Homo sapiens: one gene and its partners. The protein of the gene in region 1 purifies or fractionates together with the protein of each later gene. This does not show direct contact. Each region holds a gene or a part of one and is shown on either strand. Other genes may lie near its edges.

The links. Proteins that work in one complex are often made in the same cells at the same time.
Region 2: the proteins of THAP8 (region 1) and BBLN purify together in Homo sapiens (affinity purification with mass spectrometry; 3 studies listed by BioGRID and IntAct, with this or other methods). This does not show direct contact.
Region 3: the proteins of THAP8 (region 1) and PRMT7 purify together in Homo sapiens (affinity purification with mass spectrometry; 3 studies listed by BioGRID and IntAct, with this or other methods). This does not show direct contact.

What each region holds. Positions count from the first base shown.
Region 1 is NC_000019.10:36,034,450-36,037,418, reverse strand, and holds the end of THAP8 (THAP domain-containing protein 8), read left to right. Parts: intron 1-1,826; coding exon 1,827-1,979; 3' UTR 1,980-2,435; downstream 2,436-2,969.
Region 2 is NC_000009.12:128,155,316-128,163,264, forward strand, and holds the start of BBLN (bublin coiled-coil protein), read left to right. Parts: upstream 1-4,949; 5' UTR 4,950-5,092; coding exon 5,093-5,171; intron 5,172-7,949. UniProt on the Homo sapiens protein: Essential for intermediate filament organization in intestinal cells, interacts with intermediate filament and regulates intestinal lumen morphology.
Region 3 is NC_000016.10:68,342,019-68,349,018, forward strand, and holds part of PRMT7 (protein arginine N-methyltransferase 7), read left to right. Parts: intron 1-3,656; coding exon 3,657-3,784; intron 3,785-4,126; coding exon 4,127-4,262; intron 4,263-5,192; coding exon 5,193-5,276; intron 5,277-5,612; coding exon 5,613-5,660; intron 5,661-6,323; coding exon 6,324-6,413; intron 6,414-7,000. UniProt on the Homo sapiens protein: Arginine methyltransferase that can both catalyze the formation of omega-N monomethylarginine (MMA) and symmetrical dimethylarginine (sDMA), with a preference for the formation of MMA.

The sequences.
Region 1 (2,969 bases):
TATCTGAATCCCTTTTGCCTCTATATTTTACTGCTGGGTGTGTGTGTGTGTGTGTGTGTGTGTGTGTGTGTGTGTAGGGGAGGAATTTGAGGAAGGTGTTTGTGTGTGTGTGTGTGTGTAGGGGAGGAAGCTGAGGAAGGTGTGTGTGTGTGTGTGTGTGTGTGTGTGTGTGTGTAGGGGAGGAAGTTGAGGAAGGGTGTTATGTCTCTGTGTGTGGGGTGGCGGGGGAGGAAGATGAGGAATGGTGTTATGTCTCTGAAAATCACAGTTTGACCAAGGCGAAATTTCTCCTGTCTTAAAACCCTAGGGCCAAGCTTGAGGTGCCCAGCTTAGCCCCCATGGCTTTCAGAGCCCTGCTTGTATGAGAGAGATGCCCACACAGAGCTCTGAATGCTAGACTCACTGAAGGGGCTCAGGAAGGAGCCCCCACAGTACCTCTGGAGTTAAGGAGTATCCGATTTTTTTTTTTTTTTTTTTTGAGAAGGAGTCTTGCTCTGTTGCCCAGGCTGGAGTGGAGTGGTGCGATCTCAGCTCACTGCAACCTCTGCCTCTCTGGTTCAAGCGATTCTCCTGTCTCAGCCTCCCAAGTAGCTGGGATTACAGGCACGTGCCACCATGCCCAGCTAAGTTTTGTGTTTGTAGTAGAGACGGGGTTTTGCCATGTTGGCCAGGCTGGTCTTGAGCTCCTGACCTCAGGTAATCAGCCCACCTCGGCCTCCTATAGTGCTGGGATTACAGGTATGAGCCACCATGCCCAGCCAGGAGTCTCAGATTGATAGTCAGTGGTTTGGACATGACCCACAGATACAATTTGTTTGGCCTCCGCAGTGCTTTAAAATAATTTATAATGGCCGAGTGCAGTGGCTCACACCTGTAATCCCAGCACTTTGGGAGGCTGAAGCAGGTAGATGACTTGAGCCCAGGAGTTTGAGACCAGACTGGGCAACATGGTGAAACCCTGTCTCTACAAGAAACACAAAAAATTAGCCAAGTGTTGCACCTATAGTTCTAGCTATTTGAGAGGCTGAAGTGGGAGTATTGCTTGAGTCCAGAAGGTCAAGGCTTTAATGAACTGTGATTGTGCTACTGCACTCCAGCCTGGGTGACACTGTGAGACTCTGTCTCAAAAAAAAAAAAAAAAAAAAAGTCTGGTCTTTCCTGAAGGCTCTGCATATCTAGCAGCACTGGGCTTGGATTCTCAGGTGATAGCAGTTGGCTGGAGCTACAGTGTGGCTGCCTCTGGGGCCTTGAAGTTTGAGACTGTGGCCTGGGGCACAGAGGGACAGTGGGGCAGGGACAGAGCTCAGACTCGGGCCTGGGGCTCTTTGTGGAGCCTGCCAGATCCCCTGAGCTGACTGCCTCTCTCTGCCTCCCCTCCTGTCATTCAATCTCTGTCTCCTACTCATCTATCCCTACCTCCCAATCTCCTCCCTCCCCAACATTCATTGTCTTTCTGCCCATCATCTCTGTCCGCCACCTGTTTCCCCACCTCCCTGTGTCTCTCTTTATCTGCATATTTTCTGTCTCCCCCATATCTCTGACCCTGTCTGTACGTCTGTCTGCCTGCACATCTCTTTCCCCCACGTGTCTGCGTCTGTGCCCCCGCACTTCTCTTCCCATTTCCCCACCCTTCTTTCCTTTCCCATGAATGTCTCTCTGGCCCTCACATCTGCTTTCCTGTCTCCTCATATCTCTCCCCACATCTCTCTCTGTTTCCTGACACGCCCTCCTGCCACCTTTGCCTCCCTGTTCCTCACCGTTATCTGTCTGTCTCTCCCGCAACTTGCTTCGTAATGTTCCCCATCTCTACCACTTCTTTGCCTTAGACAACAGCCCAGACCCTTGGACCTGAGGAATCCCAAACCTTCACCATCATCTGTGGAGGGCCTGACATAGCCATGGTCCTTGCCCAGGACCCTGCACCTGCCACAGTGGATGCCAAGCCGGAGCTCCTGGACACTCGGATCCCCAGTGCATAAGGATCAAGACAGACAATGTCGAGGGACAAAAGATAGAAGATGGAGGAGGAAAGACATTATACGTGGGCTTGGCCCAGCCCCACCGCCCACGCCTGGGTAGTAGCAGTGCCTCCCTCAAGGGCCTGGGTTCTACCACCCCACTCCTAGGGATCTCTTGAACCTTAGGGGTGACCTGGGCCCAAGTCTCTCATCAGCCCCCAATCCCCTGGGTACCAGGCTTCTGCCACCCCCGGCTCAGATCTTTGCAAATCAGTACGACAGCCTCAGAGCAGAGCAAGGGTTGTTTGGGAGAATCATACCTGGTTCTAAGGAGTCCCACGCTTTTTGCCAAGCCTGGTACTGAGTTCATGATACCATGGTGGACACAGCTGAGAAAATCCCTGCCCTCATGGTGCTCATTCTACTTGAGTAGACGATGAACTAGTAAACAAATAAACAAGAACACTGCAGACATGAGCGATGAGTGCTATAAAGACAACAAAAATTTGGTTTGGGCCTGGGGGAGGGCCCTCCAAGGCCATGTTTTAGCAGAAACCTGGGTGATCAGAAGGGGCTGGCCTGGAGCGCTACAGGCTCAGGTTCCAGAGGACGAACAACCCCTGCAGTGAGGGCCTGCTGTCTGGGATGTGTCAGGTCTGGGAGGCGGTGTTGCTATGGAGAAAACCATAGTAGGGAAGGGAGGAAGGGGTGCAGTTTTAGAGCAGAGAAGGTGAAAAGACACCAACAAGTAAGATCCTAAAACAGGGCAGAGAGGGAGCCACGTAGGGATTTGGAGGAAGAGCATTCCGGGCATCACAAAGAGCCGTTGCAGGCCAGGCACGGTGGCTCACGCCTGTCGTCCCAGCACTTTGGGAAGCTGAGGCAGGCAGATAACCTAAGGTCAGGAGTTTGAGACCAGCCTGGCCAACATGGCGAAACCCCGTCCCTACTAAAAATACAAAAATTAGCTGGGTGTGGTGGCACAGGCCTGTAATCCCAGCTACTCGGGAG
Region 2 (7,949 bases), on another chromosome or scaffold:
TGTTTTTTTTTGTTTGTTTGTTTTATTTTGACATGGAGTCTTGCACTGTCACCCGGGCTGGAGTGAAGTAGCATGATCTTGGCTCATTGCAACCTCCACTTCCCAGGTTCAAGAGATTCTCCTGCCTCAGCCTCCCAAGTAGCTGTAATTACAGGTGCCCATCACCATGCCTAGCTAATTTTTTTTTTGTATTTTTAGTAGAGACGGGGTTTCACCATGTTGGCCAGGCTGGTCTCGAACTCCTGACCTTGTGATCTGCCCCCCCCTTGGCCTCCCAAAGTGCCTAATTGGTTTTTTACACTGTCATGCCCACCTTTGAGTGGTGCCTTTGTTTTAGCCTTCGTTTTGCATACTCACAAGCCAATCAGCATGCACTCCCCATTCTGAGTCCAGAAAAGCCCTAGACCCAGCCACACTGAGGGAGAGACTGCCCAACTTGGGGTGCGGGACCACTCTCACATCCCCTCTTTGCTGAGAGTTGTTCCATCACTCAACAAAATTATTCTCTGTCCTCCTCACCCTTTGATTGTCAGCGTATCCTCATTCTTCTTGGACTCCGGACAAGAGCTTGAGACCCACCAAGTGAGGGTACAAAGAAAGCTGTAACAGTGCTAGGGTTGAGCCAGCTCTGGAGCCACAGGCCAGAGCAGGTAACAGGGCTGACATCTTCCTGGACAGGGGTGTCACTGGCTGGGGGTCTCCGGCCGGCAGAATGACCAAGAAAAATCCTGTGTCACTATCATAAATCACCACAAACTGTGGGTTTAAAACAACACCTATATATTCTGGAGGTCAGAAGTTTGAAATCAGTTTGACTGGGCAGAAATGAGGGTCCACAGAGCTGTGCTTCCTCCAGAGGCTCTCAGGGAAGCTGCTCCCTGCCCTTCCCAGCTTCTCATGCTATCTTCCTTGCACCCCTTAGCCTGTGGCTCCTTCCTCCTTCAAAGGCAGTGGAGCATCAGCAAATCTCTTTCTCTGCTGAGGGCCTCACTCTCAGCCAAGGAGGGCAGGCTAGGCTGGGCACCATGGCTCACATCTGTAATCTGAGCACGTGGGGAGGCTGAGGTGGGAAGATCACTTGAGTCCAGGAGTTTGAGACCAGCCTGGGCAAGATGGTGAAACTCTGTCTCTACAAAATTGAAAATATTAGCCAGGCGTGGTGGTGGTATGCCTGTAATCTCAGCTAATCTGGAGGCTGAGGTGGGAGGATCACTTGAGCCCAGGAGTTTGAGACCAGCCTGGGCAAGATGGTGAAACCCTCTCTCTACAAAAATAAAAATATTAGCTGGGTGTGGTGGTGGTGCACCTGTAGTCTCAGCTAATCCAGAGGCTGAGGTGGGGAGTTTGAGGCTGCAGTGAACTATGATTGTGCCACTGCACTACAGCCTGGGCCACACAGTAAGACTCTGTCTCTAAAAAAAAATTAATTAATTAATTAATTAAATTTTAAAAAGGAGGTGAGCCTGACCTGGATGAGAGGCCGTTCCCCAAAATTCTTTGGGTGCTGGTTCAATGTCCTTCTTGCTCTCGCTCAATCTAGTTCAGGGAGGAGAAGGCAGGGCTGACCATGTGCAAGTCGCTGGAGACCCTCACAGCAGGCTTCAGATTCCACCATGCCCCTGCCTTCCTCAGGTAGAACAGTGAGGGTGGCTTCTGGGACAAGAGAGGATTCCACCCCATTGTCATTGTCTGGGATACATGCTTGGGCCTGACCTGGCATTGAGGATGGCCTGCCCACAGGGACAGCCAGTGTGAGACCAGGTCCAGGCTGCTGCAGCCATGATGCCTCCATGCACTACAGCTACTGGAGTCCCAGTAGGTGAGCCCCTCTGCCTAGAACGTGGGCCTGATTCTCAGCTGGACCCCTGGGCAGGATCATAGCTCTGGGTCCAACCCAGGGGTGACACTTGCCGGCTGGGTGACTGTGGGCAAGCCGCCTTCTCCTAGCTGGAAGTAGAATGTGGGATGACAGCAGCTGGGCCGATTGTCATGAAGCCTTTCTTGATGAGCAGTCCATGAAGCACTCTGCCCACGGCCCTCTACCCTCCACTGCAGCACTCACAGGCGGGGGCAGCAAACCTTTCCTTTATTGGAGAATGTGACACACAGTCCTGGGTGGGTTTGAGGTGAGCTTGAACTAAGGGAAGCCTCACCCCTGTCCTGCCCCTGTCCCAGTTAAGGGGCTCTCCCTAAAATGAACTATTCCTACTTCTCTTTATTTTTTAAAAAATTAAATCTAGCCAGGAATGGTGGTTTACACTTGTAATCCCAGCACTCTGGGGGGCCAAGGCGGGTGGATCACCTGAGGTCAGGAGTTCGAGACGAGCCTGGCCAATATGGTGAAACTAAAAATACAAAAATTAGCCGGGCATGGTGGCATACACCTGTAATCCCAGCTACTCGGGAGGCTGAGGCAGGAGAATTGCTTGAACCCGGGAGGCAGAGGTTGCAGTGGGCCAAGGTCGCACCACTGCACTCCAGCCTGGGTGACAGAGTGAGACTCTGTCTCAAAAAAAAAAAAAAATTAAATTTTTATTTAATCTTTTTTTCTCTTTGGCTTCTCAAAGTTCAACTTAAAAAGGTAGCTCCAGGGACCAGGCGCGGTGGCTTATGCCTATAATCCCAGCACTTTGGGAGGCCGAGGTGGGCTGATCACGAGGTCAAGAGATCGAGACCATTCTGACAAACATTGTGAAACCCCGTCTCTACTAAAAATACAAAAATTAGCTGGGCGTGGTGGCGTGTGCCTGTAGTCCCAGCTACTCAGGAGGCTGAGGCAGGAGAATCACTTGAACCCAGGATGTGGAGGTTGCAGTGAGCCAAGATTGCGCCATTGCACTCCAGCCTGGCGACAGGGCAAGACTCCGTCTCAAAAAAAAAAAAAAAAAGAGGTAGGTCCAGGCCGGGCATGGTGGCTCACACCTGTAATCCCAGCATTTTGGGAAGCCAAGGCAGGTGGATCACCTGAAGTCAGGAGTTTGAGACCAGCCAGGGCAACATGGTGAAACCTCGTCTCTACTAAAAATAAAAAAAATTAGCTGGGTGTGGTGGCAGGCACATGTAATCCCAGCTACTCAGGAGGCCGAGGCACAAGAATTGCTTGAACCCGGGAAGGAGAGGTTGCAGTGAGCTGAGATCATGCCACTGCACTCCAGCCTGGGCAACAGAGCAAGACTCTGTCTCAAAACAAACAAACAAACAAAGGTAGGTCTGCTCCAGGCCAAACTTTTTATTTATTTATTTTTTGAGACGGATTTTCGCTCTGTTGTCCAGGCTGGAGTGCAGTGGTGCAGTCTCAGCTCACTGCAACCTCTGCCTCGTGGGTTCAAGTGATTCTCCCACCTCAGCCTCCTGAGCAGCTGGGATTACAGGCACACGCCACCACGCCCGGCTTATTTTTGTATTTTTAGTAGAGACGGGTTTTCACCATGTTGGTCAGGCTGGTCTCAAACTCCTGACCTCGTGATCTGCCCGCCTCGGCCTCCCAAAGTGCTGGGATTACAGGCGTGAGCCACCAGGCCTGGCCTTTTTTTTTCTTTTTTTTGAGACAGGGTCTTGCTCTGTTGCTTAGGCTGGAGTGCAAGGGCACGATCTCTGCTCACTGCAACTTCTGCCTCCCAGTTCAAGTGATTCTCCTGCCTCAGCCTCCTGAGTAGCTGGGACTACAGGCGTGTACCACCACACCTGGCTAATTAAACATTTTATTTTTAATTAATTAATTAATTTTTTTTTTTTTAAAGACAGGGTCTCACTCTGTTGCCCAGGCTGTAGTGCAGTGGTGCAGTCATAGCTCACTATAGCCTCGAACTCCTGGGCCCAAGTGATCCTCCTGCCTTAGCCTCCCAAACAGCTGCAACTAAGGTGCATGCCACCAGGTCTGGCTAATTTTTTTTGTGCTTTCTGTAGAGACGGGGGTGGGGGGGGCTGAGTGGGCGGGGGTGGGAGTAGGGTGTCTCACTATGTTTCCCAGGCTGGTCTCCAACTCCTAGGCTCAAGCAATCCTCCCACCTCGGCCTCCCGTAGCGCTGGGATTACAGGTGGGAGCCACCCCGCCTAGCTAATGTTCCTGTTTCTCTTGTCCAGAGCTGGAGTCCAGCCTGATTCCCACCCACAGGTTGTAACCAATGAGCCCTAAGAGAAGCGCTGAAGACCAGGAAGGCCCAGATCCAGGGGTAGGGGTGTTGGGTCCTCTCCACTGGGGTGCAGGCAGAGAGGCAAAGAGGAAGGAGACCCTTCGTGACTCTCAGCGAGGCTGTGAAGAAGAATATCCGGAAGCCACAAGAGGTATATCCGGAAGCCACAAGAGGTGTGGAAACCCCGTTTCCAAGGCTGGGCCCAGTAGCTCGTGCCTGTAATCCCAGCATTTTGGTAGGCTGAGGCGGGTGGATGGCTCGAGCTCAGGAGTTCGAGAGCAGCCTGGGTAACATGGCGAAACCCCTCCCCCCCCCCCCCCCCCGTCTCCAAAAAATACAATAGCCAGCGTGGTGCAGCCGTCTGTAGTCCCAGCTACTCTGGAGGCTCAGGTGGGAGGATCGCTTCAGGCTGGGAGGCAGAGATCACCCCACTGCATTCCAGCCTGGAAGACAGGGCCAGGCCCTATCTCAAAAAATAACAAGGAAACCCCGTTTTCGATTTCGCCAACGCGGAGGGGCCGAAGCAGCAGATGGGCTTGGACGGTCTCCCGCCGCTCCTCCCGGACCTCCCTACTCCTGGGCTTTTCCAGGGGCAGCCCCGTGGTGGCCCCGCCCAGCGCCCGGGAGAGGGGCGAGGCCGGGGGCGGAATGGGCGGAGTTCGACTGTGAGGGAGGTGGAGGCGGGAGTCCGGTGGTGGGGGTGGAGTCTGGAGGTAGGGCGGGGCCAGAACAGCGGCGGGGGCGGAGTTCCGGCTGGGGGCGGGGCGGGGCGGAGCGGGAGCTGCGGGATTCCGGCTTCAGGGGCGGGGCACCGGCCTCTGGGCGGAGATCTGCTGCCGCGTTCTACCCTTCCGGCCCGTGTTCTATCCGCCGCCTCCACCTTCCATCCGGCGCCGGCTTTCGGCGCGACGGTCGCCGCGTTCCATCGTCGCGCGGCCCTTCGGGCGCCCGAGCCCGCAATGTCGGGCCCCAACGGAGACCTGGGGATGCCGGTGGAGGCGGGAGCGGAAGGCGAGGAGGACGGCTTCGGGGAAGCAGGTGACCCGAGGGGGCTGCTGGAGCAACCTTGCATTTTCAGGGCTGCCCTCCCGGGAAGGGGAATCGAGATGGGGTCTCGGAAGGGAACAAAGAGCCCACCCATTCCGCCCCGAGCGGGTCCGGAGTTGTAGGTGCTGTCTCGGATGCAGGGCGAGCACCCGCGAGCCGGTTCCCAGCCCCGTGAGAGCTGCAGGTCACCAGTCCCGTTTTACAGATGGGGAAACTAAGGCAGCTTCGGGGACACTCGCCCTTGTGGGCCTTGCTCCACCACTTCCTTCAGTCCTGGGGGAGACCGAGGCACCTGAGGGAGGCAGGGTTGAGCTTAGCGGAGGGGCCGGGCCGGGACGTGGAGTTGGGGACGCGGGGGCGTCGCTCTGCCGATTCAGCATCCCCAGCCACCCGGCTTTGCTGGTGTAGCCTCACAGCCTTGCCAAATGTCAGCAGCTTACAGAGCAGCCTTTTGCGTGCTTACGAGTGCAGGGGTGGGGTGTGAAGAGAACCATCGGCTCCCTTCTCACCTTCTTCAGCCTCAGTTTCCCCCTCTATAAAATAGGAATAACGATTAGTGTCTGCTGCACTGGGATGTGTCAGAATTAAATGCAAAAAAAAGGAAAATCCTTAGCAGGTTCTAGCATGCAAGAGTTCAGTAAATGGTTATCGTCATTATTATCTTTGGTATAGTAAAGATTGGCATGTTAACATACACTGAGGATTTAGTAAATGTGGTGTAAGTATGGTGCATGCTCTTTGTTTTGTTTGGCGTAACAGCTTTATTGAGCTATACAACTTACCCATACTGTACAGTTCAGTAGGCTTTTGTGTATTCCCAGGGTTGTACATCCATCACAATAGTTTCAGGTAGCTCTGCATTGGGCAATGCTGTTGGGAGCATCAGGAAGAGCTTCCCAGGAGGTCACATTAAGTGGATGTTGGCAGACAGGACTTAGAACAGTGGGGAGGAGGGTGGTGTCCCAGGCAGAAGCAAAGGCTTGGAACTGGGAAGTACCCTTGACACAGATAAAGCCTGGCCTGGAGGGGTGTGGGGCACCTGCCTCCCCAATTCCTCCTCCTAGCCTGTATCCCAGGACACAGAGTTCGAAATATTGATAATAATGACCATCCACTAAGTACTTGCTGTGGCCAGATCCTGTCTGAGCTTTTTTTTTTTTTTTGAGTCGGAGTCTTGCTCTGTTGCCCAGGCTGGAGTACAGTGGCGTGATCTTGGCTCACTGCAACCTCCGCCTTCTGGGTTCAAGCGATTCTCATGCCTCAGCCTCCCGAGTAGCTGGGACTACAGACGCCTGCCACCACGCCTGGCTAATTTTTATACATCTTTAGTAGAGACAATGTTTCACCACGTCGGCTAGGCTGGTCTCGAACTCCTGACCTCAGGTGATCCACCCGCCTTGGCTTCCCAAAGTACTGGGATTACAGGCGTGAGCCACCACACCGGCCACTGTCTGAACTCTTGATGTGTTTGAATCCTCACAACCTTTTTTATTTTCCCTTTTTTCCAGAAAGGTACAACTTGCTGGGGTAAAGCAGAGCTGAAATTCAAACCCAAGTGACCCTGACCCCCAAGTCCAATCCTGAGTTTCGGCTGTTACCAACCTGGAGGACCCTGGGCAGGTTCCTTCCTTCTGAGGCCTCGGTTTCCCTAGCTATATACCATGAGGGGGTTGGACTTTAAGATGCAGCCGATTTCCCAGGACGCTGTCGTCTGTGAGGGTGGCTGGCTCTAGGCAACGGGTGCCCTTTCCTAGAACACAGGCACATATGCACCCATAACCCAGATACGCTCCTCCAGCTCCTCCACCGGCTGCTTCCCCCTTGGTCTCAAGCTGGCAGCTGAGTGTATGTGAGTCATGGGCTGGCTCAGAACTGGGTCCCGCAGTGGGCACAGGCCCAGACCTTGAGTCCTCAGGGACACTGTGTTGCTGAGCAGGGCAGCTCTGGAGTGGCCGTGGAGGGGAGGGAGTGATGGTTTCTAGTGGAGACCAGGGAAGGCTTCTTGGAGGAGGCATTTTGAGCTGGTCCTTGAAGGGCTGTTGTGGTTGAGGCATTCTAGGTTGCAGGGATAGTTGAGCAATGGCGGAGAGGCTGGAAAGTCAGAGGCTTCATTCATTCACTCACTCAGTCATTCAACAAATGCTTATTGCAAAACTGTGAGGGCACCAGGGAGCCAGCAGCGAACACAGGACCGTTCATCTTTCATGGGGAAACATAACAGCACTCAGATAAGCACAGCAGTCAATCCTGGAGAGAAGGTCGTGGAGGGCTGAGGAGGGCTAGGGGCTCAGCATAGAGGCCTGATCCAGTCTGGGGCATTGGGTGGGCTCCCGGTGGTGACATCCATACTGAGACTTGAAGGATGAGTGGGACTCATCCAGGAGGAGAGAAGGGAAGGAAGATGGGAGGACCCAGCACCTTCCAGGCAGAGACAGCAGCATGTTCAAAGGGCCTGAGGTAGGTAAAGGCAGGTGTGAGAGAGGAAAGGAAGAGGCAGGGAGGCAGGGCTAGCTAGGAGGCAGGGGCTGGAGACTCCGCTGGGTGTTTTATCCTGAGGGAGCCACAGAAGGGCTGGCGAACAGGGCCCATCTGGGGACAGAGGCCTTGAATGCCCAACTCAGGAATGTGGGCTCTGGCCACTAAGCAGCTGCTGCAGGAAGTGCAGAGACTTGGCATCTGGCAGGACTTCCCATGTAGGACACTGGCTCGCCACCCTATGACCACCCTAACCCTAGAAAAAAGGATGCAGTACTAAAGTGTCATTCATTC
Region 3 (7,000 bases), on another chromosome or scaffold:
TGTAATCCCAACACTTTGGGAGCCCCAGGTGGGTGGATCATTTGAGGTCAGGAGTTCGAGACCAGCCTGGCCAACATGGAGAAACCCCACTTCTACTAAAAATACAAAAATTACCCGGATGTGGTGGTGCGTGCCTGTAATTCCAGCTACTCGGGAGGCTGAGGCAGGAGAATTGCTTGAACCCAGGAGGTGGAAATTGAAGTGAGCTGAGGTCACACCACTGCACTCAAACCTGGGTGGCAGAGCGAGACTCTGTCTCAAAAAATAATAAGAACAAAAAATAAACTGTTAACCAAATGTCTCCCAAAGTTAGCTTGGCCCGGACCCAGGAATGATTAAGGGCAGTTTGGACATTAAAGCAAAATGGGGGTTGGTTAGATGAGATCTCTTTCACTGTCATAATTTTCTCACTTTTTCGCAAAGGCAGTTTTGGTTTCAGGACCAAGAAATAGAACCTGTCTCTACCCAGGAGCGCCTCAGGCACCATCCTTTGTCCATGGTCCAGCCTGCCTGGCCTTAACCCCTGGCTTTGTGTTGAATGCTCACCTGCTGGTTCTAGGTGTCCACAACATTATGGAAGGCCTTAGCAGCTTCACCTACCCCATTCCCAGAGTTACTGTTTAGGCCGAAGGGTTGTGACTGCTGGGGAATTGCTGTCAATCAGCGTACCCATACCGACAGCAGCATGTGAGACTAAGAAGTATGTGAGCTTCCTAGTCTCCCCTCCACCTTCCAGGTGCCTGGCCCCGGGTGTGTGTGTGTCCAGCCAGGGCCTGCCAGCATCCCTCTGCAGGCTGTGTGTGTGTCACTCTGAATTCACCCACAGAGTTGAGATTGGCACCGCGTCACATTCTTCCTAAGACTGTGTTGCAGAATTAGCATAAGAATAGCATTAAAATGTTAGTACTTTTGGCCGGTGGCTCACTCCTATAATCCCAGCACTTGGGAGGCCAAGGCAGGTGGATCACCTGAGGTCAGGAGTTCAAGACCAGCCTGGCTAACATGTTGAAACCCTGTCTCTACTAAAAATACAAAGAAAATTAGCCGGGCATGGTGGCAGGCGCCTGTAATCCCAGCTACAGGGCTGAGGCAGGAGAATCACTTCAACCTGGGAGGTGGAGGTTGCAGTAAGCTGAGACTGCACCATTGCCCTCCAGCCTGGGCAACAAGAGCGAAACTCCGTCTCAAAAAAAAAAAAAGTTAGTACTTTTAATTTGCATATCTTCGGAGCGCTACTATGTATTTTTTCTCCTTGAATCCTCTTAGTAGACAAACAAGGTAACCACAACCATAGCCAACCCGGGACTCAGCAGGCTCCAGGGATTGGAGCGGGGCCTTGTGTCCAGGAGCAGTAGAGTGGGTCCTGCCCCTGGTCTCTTGACTGTGGGTCTTGTGTTGTTTCTCTACCAGCGTTGACTTTTGGATTGGAAATTTGAAAGCTGCTAATGAATCTCCCTCATGAATTCATGTAACTGCTTTGATCCTAAGTATATTTAGTCTGTCCCACCTTGGCACAGTGGGTTCTGTCACCAGCTCCTCAACGTTAGGACCCAGGAGGTCCCTGTGGTAGGTAGTATGGGAAGGACATGATGACAGGGCAGTGCCATGGGAGCCTAGGAGGGGTCGGGAAAGGGTTCTCCTGTCTTCTTCACATGCATTTGCATAGTGTGGGAATGAATAAAAGGTTTAAAAGAACCTGTGTTATTCCTGTTACTATTTATTTTTCCAGAACATATCTGGTCAGATTTTCATTTTCTAGTTTTTATGTTCAAGTAAGCGTCTTAAGCGTGTGGGAATGTCATTCTCCTGCCTTTTTGTTAAATTAAAGACCAGGTGGGTGGGCACATTCCTTACCTGTGCTCTTGGAGTCCCACAGGGCCAAGTTTTTCTTAGTTCCTGAAGGTGACAGAATGAGCAGGCAGTCGTCTCATCAGAGTTGAGCCAGGCATCTCCTGTTTTTGTTTGTTAGAGACAGGGTCTTGCTTTATTGCTCAGGTTGGATTGTGGTGGCACCTCTTAGCTCACTGCAACTGTGAACTCCTGGGCACAAGCGATCCTCCCACCTCAGCCTCCTGAGTAGCTGGGACTACAGGCACTTGCCACTATGCATGGCTAATCTTGTGTTTTTTGTAGAAATGGGTGTCACTGGTATGTTACCCAGGCTGGTCCCGTACACCTGGCCTCAAACGATTTGCCAGCCTCGGCCTCCCAAATTGTTGGGATTACAGGCATGAGCCACCGTGTCCAGCTGGCATCTACTTTTTAGGGCAGTTCTTCCTTTTTCAAAAAGAGGCTTAACAATTATGAGCGAAATAAACCTCATTATATAAAATAAAAATATCACTCATGGTCCTCCCTTTCACTCAAAATAGCTCCCTTTGTTTGGTCTCTCTCCAAACGCGTGGGTGTCATCGGTGCTCATCTCTGTTCCGGGCCCCGTGGCCTTCAGCAGCAGCGTTTAAGATGTCTGTCCGTATTCTGCACGAGGGTTTATATCCCGTTCTGAGTGCTGGCCATTTGGGTGGGTTCCAGTTTTTGCTGGTATAAATAATTCTGTGATTTGCATTTTTATGTGAATATAACTTTTTTTTTTCTTTTGGGGTTTTCTTAGGATAGAAACCTGTATGTGGGGTTTGTAGTAAGGACTAGCACAGCTTATTAAAAATTGACCGTGGATCATTGTCAACCATGTTTCACAATTTAGAATATTCAGTTATTTAAATACTTCAATTTAATTCAAAGAATAAGCCAAAACCTTTTTGTATTTTCCCACCTTTTTATTTTGAAAAATTATATATCCACAGAATAAGTGAAAATGAACACTGATGGTCGCTTTATTAATTTAAATTTACCAGTTGTTAACGTTTGCCACATCTGCTTTATCTTTGTCTTTCTGCCTCCCTTCCTGCATCTCTACACACACACACACACACACACACGGGCATGCACATTTTTTTTTTTTATTGCTAAATCATTTGAAAGTAAGTTGCAGACATCTGACACTTTACTTTTAAATACTTCAACACTTATCTCCCAAGAATGAAAACAGTCTGCAACATAAATGAAACACATGATCACACCTAAGAAAAACAGTGGTTCCATAGTATCGTCTAACATATGGTTCAAAATAAAATTTGTCTCCAGAAGTCCTTGATAGCTTTTGTTTCCTCAGTCTACGATCCAGTTAGGTTTAGTGCATTGAGTCTGACTGTTTTGTAAATTCCGAGTACGTTAAAGCCTTTGGAATGCGTGCCATGGACTGTTCTGAAAAGGTTCCCCTTAAACCACTAGGTTTAAACCAATTTTTTTCCTTCAAAGGAAACATTCAGCACAGCTCTACGTGTTGAAGAGAGAGCTTTGGTGCTACTCTGATGGGGTGGGGACTGGAGCCTGCACTTGTCCCCTCCCCTGAGCCACTCTGGCAGATTGCTGCTCTTGGCCACATTGTGTCTTCCTAAAGCCAGCAGGGTTCCCGCAAACTTTTGGGCCACTGGCCTCTGAGTTTAGAGTTTATTTATCTCCTTGGCCACAATAGCCAGCTGTAGTCTACATTGTGGACGTCCTGAAAACTGGCAGTTCTCTGGCATTTGGCTCCTGGATTAGAAGCATTGCTCATACTGCAGCTCGTTGACAGCTGACTCTGTTCTCCGTTTCAGTGGCGGGACCACTGGATGCAGTGTGTGTACTTCCTGCCACAAGAGGAGCCTGTGGTGCAGGGCTCAGCGCTCTATCTGGTAGCCCACCACGATGACTACTGCGTATGGTACAGCCTGCAGAGGACCAGGTACGTCGAGCCTCGTGGGGGTGGAGGATGAGCCTCTGAGACTTGTATGTAAATTCCCCATTTACAGATCCTCTGGAGGTGCCAGTGGGTTGATTTGTGTCTGGACAGAATAACATAAGAACAAAGATTTGTGACCAGTGTGTCAGTGCCCATTCGTGTGTACCCAGGAGAGGCTGTCATGGGTTGCTGGAATCTGTTTAGAGCAGATGCGTAGGAAAAGTCTGGAATTAGCGGGTGCTCTAAGCCCTCATGCCTACTGGAGACCAGTGTCCAGATTCATGCCCTCTGGAGACCTGTGGAGGCGCTCACAGCCCACGTCTGTTTGTTCATCTCCTGGCCTAGCCCTGAAAAGAATGAGAGAGTCCGCCAGATGCGCCCCGTGTGTGACTGCCAGGCTCACCTGCTCTGGAACCGGCCTCGGTTTGGAGAGATCAATGACCAGGACAGAACTGATCGATACGTCCAGGCTCTGAGGACCGTAAGTGTCCAGCCCCTTGGCTTGTTGTGGGGAAAAGGGAGAAAGAAGTTTGTCCCATGAACCCCAGCACTTTGCTTATGATTTGCTGTTTCTTTCCTGTGTCCTCTTGTCTATGAGTGGCTTCAGCGAGCGCCTCCTGGGTGGGCACTGGAGCAGAAAGCGGGAGAGCCTGGGGCTGGACTTCCTGAGGGCTTGCTCTCTGCTCTACTGGGAGAGCCTCTGGCTGGGCTCCTGCTGGACACCTTTGCCTTGTCAGACACAGTCATTGCTGTGGGTGGTCACGGTGGATTAGGCCACCCCCTCTTTTCATGTGTTGTCACCTTTCTAAAATTTTCTAAGATGTAAATCTGATCATGTCGCTCTCCTGCCTGAAAACCTTTGCTCCCTGCTACCTGTAGCAGGGGACTCGGCTTGGGGATTACAGATGGGGCTTAGAGGGAGGGTCTCTTGAGGCCCTTGGGGGTGTGTACAGAAATAGGTGTGAATGTGTGCATTTTGGGGGATGGGGGGAGGATCCAAGCCATCCTGAGTTTCTCTCAGAGGGGTCTGTCACCCAGAAAGGCATCCTTGCCTTTGGGCAGTCAATTGTGAACACTCAAGCCTTGGAGGCTCTCAGCTGTCTGTGCTCTAACCAGACAGGGAAGAAGCCTGTTGTCATGGACTGGAAGGTGGCCTGCAGGTGGTGCAGGCCTTCAGCGGGGCCTCTAGGCTGGGTTGAGGGGTGTCTTTCCTGACACTGGGGACAGGTGGGGAGATGTGAGCAAGGCGGGCATGTTTGTGGCTGGGGGTGGTTACTGCATGAGGACGCAGGGGGATGGTCTGAGGTCTGGGCAAGTGGAGTGAGAAGGGAAGTATTTCTGACAGCTTGCCAGCAGGAATCTTCTGGCAAACTGGAGGAAGCCCTGTGCTGAGCTTGCCTGTTCCCCGCAGGTGCTGAAGCCAGACAGCGTGTGCCTGTGTGTCAGCGATGGCAGCCTGCTCTCCGTGCTGGCCCATCACCTGGGGGTGGAGCAGGTACTGACATGCACCCTTGTCAGCCTCCTGATGTGGGCTTGTGAGTTAGAGCATTGCGTGGTCCGGGTGCACAATTCTGTGATCAAGGCTCTTTGCAAAGGCCACTGTTGTGGGCACAGCATGCTCGGGTCAGGGGCTGGGGGGTTTATTGCCTGTGCGTGCAGGCAGGCGTCAGGCCTCAGAGCTGGTGTTCAGGCTGCCCCAGGGAGGGAATGAGGGCAGGGAGGGTTGTTCAGGTGTGTCCTCTGTCTTAGGATGGTCTTGTCGCATTTTAATCTTTAATTTCTTCTCTGTTAAGTGAATATCTTACAACTAATAGCGTGGTGTTCCCTCTAGGTGTTTACAGTCGAGAGTTCAGCAGCTTCTCACAAACTGTTGAGAAAAGTAAGTGAGAATTGTTGTTGCTGAAATAGTGAGAGGACCTGTGGGGTCTGGGTTGATGGCTTTGAAGTGGCATTGGCCCCAGGGGAACAAAGGAGTGGTGGCTCGCTTGCACCCCTGTGTTGTCTTGGTTGCTGCCTGGAGAGCAGCCAGAGGCCTTGGGAGCTGTCACTGAAATAGAGGCAGGCATTTGCACTCTGCTTTGTTTTTTTGTGTCTGAAGAAGTTTAGGCTTTTTTCCTCACTTCACATAAGCTACTGTTGCGGTAGAATTAAATGTAGGATGTGTTTCTGGGACATCAGTGCTGAGGGAGCCAGTGCTCACAGCCTGATGGGAGATGGCATTTCTCTCCCTGGCCAGTAACTGGTTTGATTTCCTCTCCAAAGGGGAACTCCCTTCACCAGAACTGCAGGCTCGCACTGAGTCCTGGTGTGCACATGCGGGAGAAATTTCTTTTGCTTTTATCACATTGTGCTCCTGATCTCATCCGTGGTCTATAGGATGCCCCCCAAGGAGAGGATTTTTCCACAAAGCAGATAAAAGTGGTGTTCCAGAACCATTTGCCGGAAAATTCAAAGCGGAGAATGCAACTTTGAGAGATTTTTTTTTCCTGACAAACACAATACTTTAGTATGAATACAGTAATTTTACGGTTTTCTTTCTAAGATCTTCAAGGCTAACCACTTGGAAGATAAAATTAACATCATAGAGAAACGGCCGGAATTATTAACAAATGAGGACCTACAGGGCAGAAAGGTGAGTAGCGGGAGCCTTTTGGCCACGCTGGGCTGTGTTAGGGTGGTCAGCACGGCACTGAAGTAGCCCAGGCCCCACCCTGTCCCTGGAGTCTCACAGTGGGTCCTCCACATGCAACCTTACCTCCTACGAGCTCCCACCATCAAGGGTGTGGTGAAGCTTTCATGGAGCTGCCCGGTGAGCAGATGGTTGCACTGCTCTTTTTTTTTTTTTTTTTTTTTTTTTTTTGAAAATGGGGTCTCGCGCTGTCGTCCAGGCTGGAGTGCAGTGGCACGATCTTGGCTTACTGCAGCCTCGACCTTCCAGCCTCAAGCGATCCTCCCACCTCTCCCGAGTAGCTGGGACTGTAGGCATGTGCCATTATGCCTGGCTAATTTTTGTATTTTTTGTAGAGTCAGCGTTTCATCATGTGGCCCAGGCTGGTCTTGAACTCCTGGGCTCATGCGATCTGCCAGTCTCAGCCTCCCAAAGTGTCGGGGTTACAGGCATGAGCCACCACACCTGGCTGTACTGCTCTTAGCTCAGCCTCATCTCTGCTCCTTCAGGTCAGGACAGAGCAGCTCTCTTGGGGTTCCTAGGAGCAGAGC